Linked DNA regions of Homo sapiens. Changing the gene in region 2 together with the main gene of any one other region gives a genetic interaction. Each region holds a gene or a part of one and is shown on either strand. Other genes may lie near its edges. The genes, in order: LRP8 and SLC31A1.

Region 1 (3,921 bases), on a different chromosome or scaffold from region 2:
TAAGAATACAGTAGACACTCAGGAGGCAACATTAGCAAAATAGCAAATGCTGTTTCCCCAGAGGTTTTCTTCTTCTTGCCCTCTCTCTGGGTGATTAGTTCCTTAGTGTCCACTGCCATCAATAACTAAGTCTCCAATCCCAACAGCTCTCTTACGATCCAGACTGCAAAGCTAACTAGCTCCCCTTGGATGTCCCATGGACACCTTGAACTCAATATGTCCAAAACTGTTCATCCCCATTCCCTTCCCCTCGGCCAACCAGACGGCCCAAACCCTGAGCCCTGATCCTCCTCTACTGCTTCACACATCAGAGAACAGCACCACCATTCATGAAACCTCCCAAGCCAAAAACCTGAAACTCCCAAAATTCACTATGAAGGAGTAAATTTCTTCCATCAGCCCCATATCTAGTCTGTCACCAAATCCTGCCTCTTTCAGTTACATCTCTTGGACAGGCATTGTTCTAGTTATGTTTTTGGGTGTGTGTGAACGGAGTGTCTGTATGTTGCAGGGAGGCAGGAATCTAGTTGTCAGTGAGTAGCACTTGCTATATTTGCTTCCATCCACTCTTCCACCCATCTGTCCCATCATTCTTTCATCAGTGACTCAGTGTCTACCCAGCGCCTGGTCATCGGCATTCCTGCCAAGTGGATCTCAGGACAAAGAAAGGACATGACTGCCTGAAGAGGGCCCAGACATGCAGTGGGGCAGGTGCTGGCATCTGAGAAAGTCCTAGGAGAGAACCTCCTCCAGTGTGTGAAGAGCTTCCCAAGCACCAGGTCCACTGACTGTGGCGTCAAAGACAGTGAAAAGCTGGCCTTGGGGTGATGCCATCCAGGAAGGCATGCCAGATCAGATGCCCAGGTGGGTTCGGAGGCCTCCTCTGTACTTTCTCATGATCATCACAAATGGATGTCACTGTGTTGTGAGTGGGATCCTCTGGGCAGGGACCAGGTCTAAGTCCCCAGGTTCCAACACACAGGGATGTGAGCTGCTTGGAAAGTCCTCCCCAAAGCCAGGATTTCTTCCTTTCTGCCCTGGCCAAACAGTTCCTGTGTCTTGTGCTTCCATATTAGGCCTCCAGAGGTCAGACAAATCCCAGGTGTTTGGGGCTCAAAGCTGCTAACCCAAGGGAGCCCTCAGACTACTCCAGCCCCAGTAAAGTCCCAGAAGTTCCATATCCACTGTGATCCTGCATCTCTTCCCAAGTCCCAACTCTGTCCTGAGGAGCTCTAGAGGCAGACACCACTCCTCCCCTCCTCACCTGTCACCACCCCTCACCCCCACTCTTCATGCCTTGCTGCAGAGGATATGGCCGCTCACCTATAGATCTTACGGTAGGAGAGGTCACACCAGTAGATGCGATTGGTGGCAACTTCCACATCTAGTGCCACGACATTCTTGAGCATGGGGATGAGGCGTGAATAGTTCCGCTTCACCAGGTCGATCCTCCGCACCTCGTGCCGGTTGGTGAAGATTAGGGATGGGCTCTTGCCAGCTGTCATGCAGGGAGGTTGAAAGAGAAAGAGTCAGTGCAAGAGGCAGGGAGCCTGGAGACCAAGACTCTGCCACTGGCTTGCTGGCTGACACATCCATTTTCCTTAAAATAGTAGTGACAATTCCTACTTTACAGGTTGCAGGAGCAGATGAAATAATGAGTACAGAAAGCAGAAGATGCAGAGCACCACGCATAGCAGGAAGATTCTTATTCTTTTTATTAGATACAAACTTCTCCAAAATCTTTTATGGCTCCCCATTTTCTCCTTAGGCCTGCACTGAAAGCCTTCCACAGTGTGACCCCAAGTTCCCTGTCCAGCCTCATTACTCGCCTCTCCAACATAGCTTGATTCCACCTACCAGATACCATTACCTAGCCATGGATGGGCTTCCTGCCTCAGAGCCTTTGCTCAGGTTGTCCCTTCCACCTACTATGTATTTCTTTCCAGCAACTATCATCTTCTCTGCTTGGGCCCTACTGCTGTGGTTCAAGAAGGAACTACCTGAGCAAGTAAGTGTCTTAGAAAGATAACTAGGGGCCAGGCACAGTGGCTCACACCTGTAATCCCAGCACTTTAGGAGGCTGAGGCTGGCACATCGCTTGAGGCCAGGAGTTTGAGACTAGCCTGGGTAATATGGCAAAATCCCATCTCTAAAAATAAAAATAAAAAAAAAATTAGCTGGGCATGGTGGCACATGCCTGTAGTCCCAGCTACTCAGGAGGCTGAAGTGGGAGAATCATTTGAGCCCGGGAGGTTAAGGCTGCAGTGAGCCATGATTGTGCCACTGCACTCCAGCCTGAGTGACAGAGACTCTGTCTCAAAGGAAAAAAAAAAAGATGATTCAGGATAGAAAGTATTGGGGACATAGCAAGAGATGAGCTTCAGAGATTGGCAGGGGCCAGATCACAAAAGGTCCTATGAGCTGGGTGAGTTTGTTCTCTATCCTGAGCCAATGGCAGAGATGGGACATATATGATATACAACACAGATTATATATATGCAGTAGAGACAACATAAACTGCTCATGTATACACAAAACCTGTATTTTTCTTAGATTTAGGGTTAGATTTTAAGATGATAAATAAGTGACCTAGACTTTCCTGGCTACTCCATATGGGAGGACACTGTCCCATGGGCCTCTGAGGGCCTAGCACCAGCTCCCACAGGCTGTTTCTAGATGTATTGGGCCACTCTCAGGCACCAACACTGTCTGAGGGGCTGCTCCTAGTAACACCTGCCCCTCAAGCTCCCTGTGCCTCCTTCTCTTGTTTTCCAGCTGACACTTCTGCCAGCCACCAGTCCCTGTCACTGTGCATCTTTGCCAAGCTAATGTGCTCCCTGGAGGATGGGACCAGCACAGAGTCAGGTAGGGCCTGGGGCTGGGTGTGTGACCTGTGTGTAGTGATGGAGACTAATTCAAAGCAGGGTGGGAGTGAGACAGAAGTGTGGTACAAATAGCATGGAGAATGGGCTCAAGGTGCAGGAAGGGGCAAGGATGAAAGCTGAGTTACAGGCCAGCTCTGCCACTGACAAGCTGTGATTTCCCTCACCCCAAAATGACAGTAATGACACTTCACCTCCCTGAAGGCAGGAGCCAGGTTAAAGGGGCATGTTGGAGTGATCTTAAATGACAGCTGTGACTGTGACAGGAACCCCCTGTGTTTATGATTTGAGATTTTATGTAACTGCACTTGAAATATTCATGTGTGTGGATTTTGTATATGCATGGGTAGTTGCATGTTGTCTCCAGTGCATGTACATAATCTGTGTCATGTATTACATGTGTTCTATATGGGGGCAAGAACAGGTTACACGTTATATGTGATATACTAATGTATGAGTTACATATTGTACAGTTTGGGTGTTACAGTTTTTGGGTTTATGGGCTACATGTCAGTATTATGGCTGCTGTATTGTTATAATTTATCTGTTGTATATTGTATTTAACTTGCATATGAACTCCAGACTCATATATCCAGCTGCCTTCTCAATATCTCTACTTGGATACCTAACCAGTTTTCTTAAACATAACATGTCCAAAACAGCCTAAGATTCCTCCAAACCTGCTTCCCTCACCATCTTTCCCAAGCCCATACGTAGCAATCTTATTTTTTCAGTTGCTGTAACTTTTTTTTCCACATTCCACATTCAATTCATAAGCAAATCCTGTTGGCTGGCCTTTGCACTATATCTGCAGTCTGTCCACTTTTCATTATTCCCACAGTAATAATGTGGGAATAAGGGTTCAGCCACCATCACCTCGCTTCTGGATTATTGCAATGACCTCTTAAGTGGTTTCCCTGCCTTCTCCCTTGTCCTCTACAGTCTGTTCTCAATACTGCAGTCAGAATAAAATGTCACACCATGTCCCTTCCCTACTCAGAGCCCTCAATGGTTTCCCCCCAGTTAGAGTGAAATCCAG
Region 2 (3,921 bases):
CTATGGCACTCACCATCATCATCATGCTGCTGTCTCCTCCACCATGGGAGTGTGAGGCTGAAGTGGTTGGGTGATGGTGAGAAGGTTGCATGGTACTGTTGGAGTCCATATAGCTCATCCCCATATGGTGGGAATGATCCATTTTTTCCAGGAAAAGTTGAGAGTCAGCAGAAGATTCTTTTAAGAGAAAGAATTATATATAATAATTTAAGGATATAAAAATCTTATCTCTTTTTTTTATTTTTAGAGATGGAATCTTGCTATGTTGCCCAGGCTGGAATGCAATGGCTATTCACAGGCATGATCCCACTACTGATCAGTACAGGAGTTTTGACCTGCTCCATTTCTGATCTAGGCTGGTTCACCAGGCAACCTGGTGGTTCCCTGCTCCTGGGCTTGTTTCTTGGTAAATACTTTGTCTATATGGAATGCATCTAATAAATGAATGCTCTCCTAGCATCTTTACTCAGAATTATTTTTCATAATCTACAGATGGAGAGAGAAAGAACTCGTGCTAATAGGGATCACTTTTGGAGACTGTAGCAGAAAGGGTTTACACGTAGGGCTACAGATGCCTAACCCTTCCTTATTCTGCAGAATTGTTCCTTTTTTTTTGAGACAGGGTCTTGCTCCATCACCCAGGCTGGAGTGCAACTCACCACAGCCTCAACCTCAGCCTCCTGAGTAGGTGGAATCACAGGCCTGCACCACTACCACGCTCAGCTAATTTTTTGTTTTATCGTACAGATGAGGTCTCGTGTTGCCCAGGCAGGTCTCGAACTCCTGAGCTCAAGCAATCCTCTTGCCTTGGCCTCCCAAAGTGTTGGGATTACAGGTGTAAGCCACTGTGCCCCACCAGTATAGTTCCTTTAATAGGTATGCTTAATATATGTTCAAACTTAAATATTAGATAAGGAGAAGGAAAGCAGCTTCTTTGGGTTGCAGGAAACAGGCAATCTGTAATAAGATACAAATGAATGCCATTAATGAAATTTAACTGCTTTAAGGCTTTCTAATCATAAATGTCAGCAGATAAAAAGCAAGGACTTCAGATAATTCACCTAATTGGGATGGCCTGTGCCTAATCAGGATATTTGGATTACATTTTCACATACAGGACAACCAGCCTTCAGCTAATTTAAATTTGAAGAAAGGTCTACTATGGCCCTAGGCACGCAGTGTGCTCAGACTTCAGATACAATTTCAATCCTACCAGGACATTAGAGTGAAGAACATGAAAAACAAGGTATAAATTGGATACTCTATATTAAATTAAGTCTAGACAACTGCAAATTCAGCCTTGTATCTTTACTACCACATCACTGTATTGCTGCAAAAGTCCATCTGGGACATAAACCAAGGAGCAATAATTCCTTTTATTTATTTATTTTTGAGACAGAGTTTTGCATGGTTGCCCAGGCTGGAGTGCAGTGGTGTGATCTCGGCTCACTGCAACCTCTGCCTCCTGGATTCAAGTGACTCTCATGCCTCAGCTTGCCGAGTAGCTGGGATTACAGGTGCATGCTACCACACCTGGCTAATTTTTAAATTTTTAGTAGAGATGGGGTTTCACCATGTTGGCCATGCTGGTCTCAAACTCCTGAGCTCAAGTGATCTGTCCAACTCGGCCTCCCAAAGTACTGGGATTATAGGCTTGAGCTACCGTGCCCGGCCCAGGAACAATAACTCCTATAGCTAGAGTTGGAGTGGGAGAATGGGAAGCTGGTGTGTGTGGAGGGGGAGGTGTTGGTGGATTCTCTTTATGTGTCCCTCAAGTCCAGTCTGTGGAAGAAAAAGTGGTTTTAAAAATTCCAAGTAGGTATTCATGTTCATGAAACCAAGTATGCTTTTCATTATTCATTCACTCAATATTTATCAAGCTCCTATTATATACCAAACTCTGAGCTAGGTGCTAATAATTCAACAATGAATAAGACAAGGTTCCTGATAGGGAGAGAAACAATAAATATAATTTCATGCTGTGAAGGAAATAAGCTGAGAAATAAGACACAATTACCAAGAGGTAAAGAATAAATTGGCCAGGCGCGGTGGCTCATGCCTGTTATCCCAGCACTTTGGGAGGCTGAGGCAGGCAGATCACTTGAGGCCAGGAGTTCGAGACCAGCCTGGCCAACATGATGAAACCCCATCTCTACTAAAACAAAAAAATTAGCCAGGTGTGGTGGCATGCACCTGTAATCCCAGTTACTCGGGTGGCTGAGGCATGAGAATCACTTGAACCTGGGAGGTGGAGGTTTCAGTGAGTCAAGGTTGGACTACCGCACTCCAGCCTAGGTGACAGGAGACTATCTCAAAAAAAAAAAAAAAAAAAGACTGTGGGTAGGAAATTTATATAGATTCAGGGAGCCATCTATTTATTTTCTCCTTGTTAACTCCTACCCCATAGTTCTATGACAGCTGGCTTAAGAAATAGGTTCTTATTTCTAGTGAAGGATAAGGCAAAGCATCAGGTAGGCATAATCAAAGATCCACTTTCATGCCAGACACTACATTATTTTATAATTATAGAGCTCAACAGTGAAACCCCGTCTTTACTAAAAATACAAAAATTAGCTGGGCTTGGTGGCACGCGCCTGTAATCCCAGCTACTCGGGAGGCTGAGGCAGAGAATTGCTCAAACCTGGGAGGCGGAGGTTGTGGTGAGCAGAGATCATGCCACTGCACTCCAGCCTGGTCAGCAGAGCAAGACTCCATTTCAAAAAAAAAAAAAAAAAAAATTACAGAGCTCGACAATCTGGTATTATTGATACCATTACCATAAAGAGATTACATCAGAGGTATAAAAAGATATAAAACAGAGTCTTTGTCTACAATGTTTTTAGAGTAAACACTAAAAAATACAATACACAATAAAATAAAGACCATGCTCAAAGTGTCAGTGATGGGGCAAATGGCAGGTGGGCAGCTGTTTTCAGATAAAGAGGTAATTATGGTAGGATGGAGAGATCACTGGCATCTGAGTGATCATAAATTATGATATTGAACCAAACAAATGCAATAAGAATGAAAAGACTTGGCCAGGCGCGGTGGCTCACGCTTGTAATCCGAGCACTTTGGGAGGCCGAGGCAGGCGGATCACGAGGTTAGGAGATCAAGACCATCCTGGCTAACATGGGTGAAACCCCGTCTCTACTAAAAACACAAAAAAATTAGCCGGGCATGGTGGCGGGTGCCTGTAGTCCCAGCTACTCTGGAGGCTGAGGTAGGAGAATGGCGTGAACCCGGGAGGCGGAGCTTGCAGTAAAGCGAGACCGCGCCACTGCACTCCAGCTTGGGCTACAGAGCAAGACTCCGTCTCAAAAAAAAAAAAAAAAAGAAAAAAAGAAAAGAAAAGACTTTCGCTAGCCAGGAAGACTACTGACACATCCTCATAAAGAGCTAGAGGCAGAAGACACAAATACTGTTCTCTTCCAATGAGAGTCTGAAAAATGATTATAGCATAAGAAAACCACAAAGGATTTACTTCATTCCATATTATCAATATGAATCCTGGTCAGGAGGAGGGAATGAATATTTGCAAGAGTGCCTTCTTAAGACCAAAGGAAATAAAGAAATGAACATCACATGGAGTCTTTCCTCAAGGAGCTTTAAGGCTAAAAGCTAGAAAGGGAAACTGAACAGTCATAATTTTCATTTTGAGATATAAGATAACATGTAGAGGACTGTTAAAAAAGCAAGACTAGGCTGGGTGCGGTGGCTCACCCTGTAATCCCAGCACTTTGGGAGGCCAAGGCGGGCAGATCACCTGAGGTCAGGAGTTCAAGACCAGCCTGACTAAAAACCCCGTCTCTACTGAAAATACAAAAAGTACCCGGACCTAGTGGCAGGCACCTGTAGTCCCAGCTACTTGGGAGGCTGAGGCAGGAGAATCGCTTGAACCCGGGAGGCGGAGGTTGCAGT

Evidence for each region.
Region 1: changes in SLC31A1 (region 2) and LRP8 are lethal when combined (synthetic lethality), as found in Homo sapiens cells (one study listed by BioGRID).

Annotation. Positions count from the first base shown.
Region 1 is NC_000001.11:53,265,150-53,269,070, forward strand, and holds part of LRP8 (low-density lipoprotein receptor-related protein 8 isoform 1 precursor), read right to left. Parts: exon of another isoform or gene 2,776-3,921; intron 2,009-2,775; exon of another isoform or gene 1,947-2,008; intron 1,499-1,946; coding exon 1,324-1,498; intron 865-1,323; exon of another isoform or gene 603-864; intron 1-602. UniProt on the Homo sapiens protein: Cell surface receptor for Reelin (RELN) and apolipoprotein E (apoE)-containing ligands. LRP8 participates in transmitting the extracellular Reelin signal to intracellular signaling processes, by binding to DAB1 on its cytoplasmic tail.
Region 2 is NC_000009.12:113,252,370-113,256,290, reverse strand, and holds part of SLC31A1 (high affinity copper uptake protein 1), read right to left. Parts: intron 178-3,921; 5' UTR 143-177; coding exon 14-142; intron 1-13.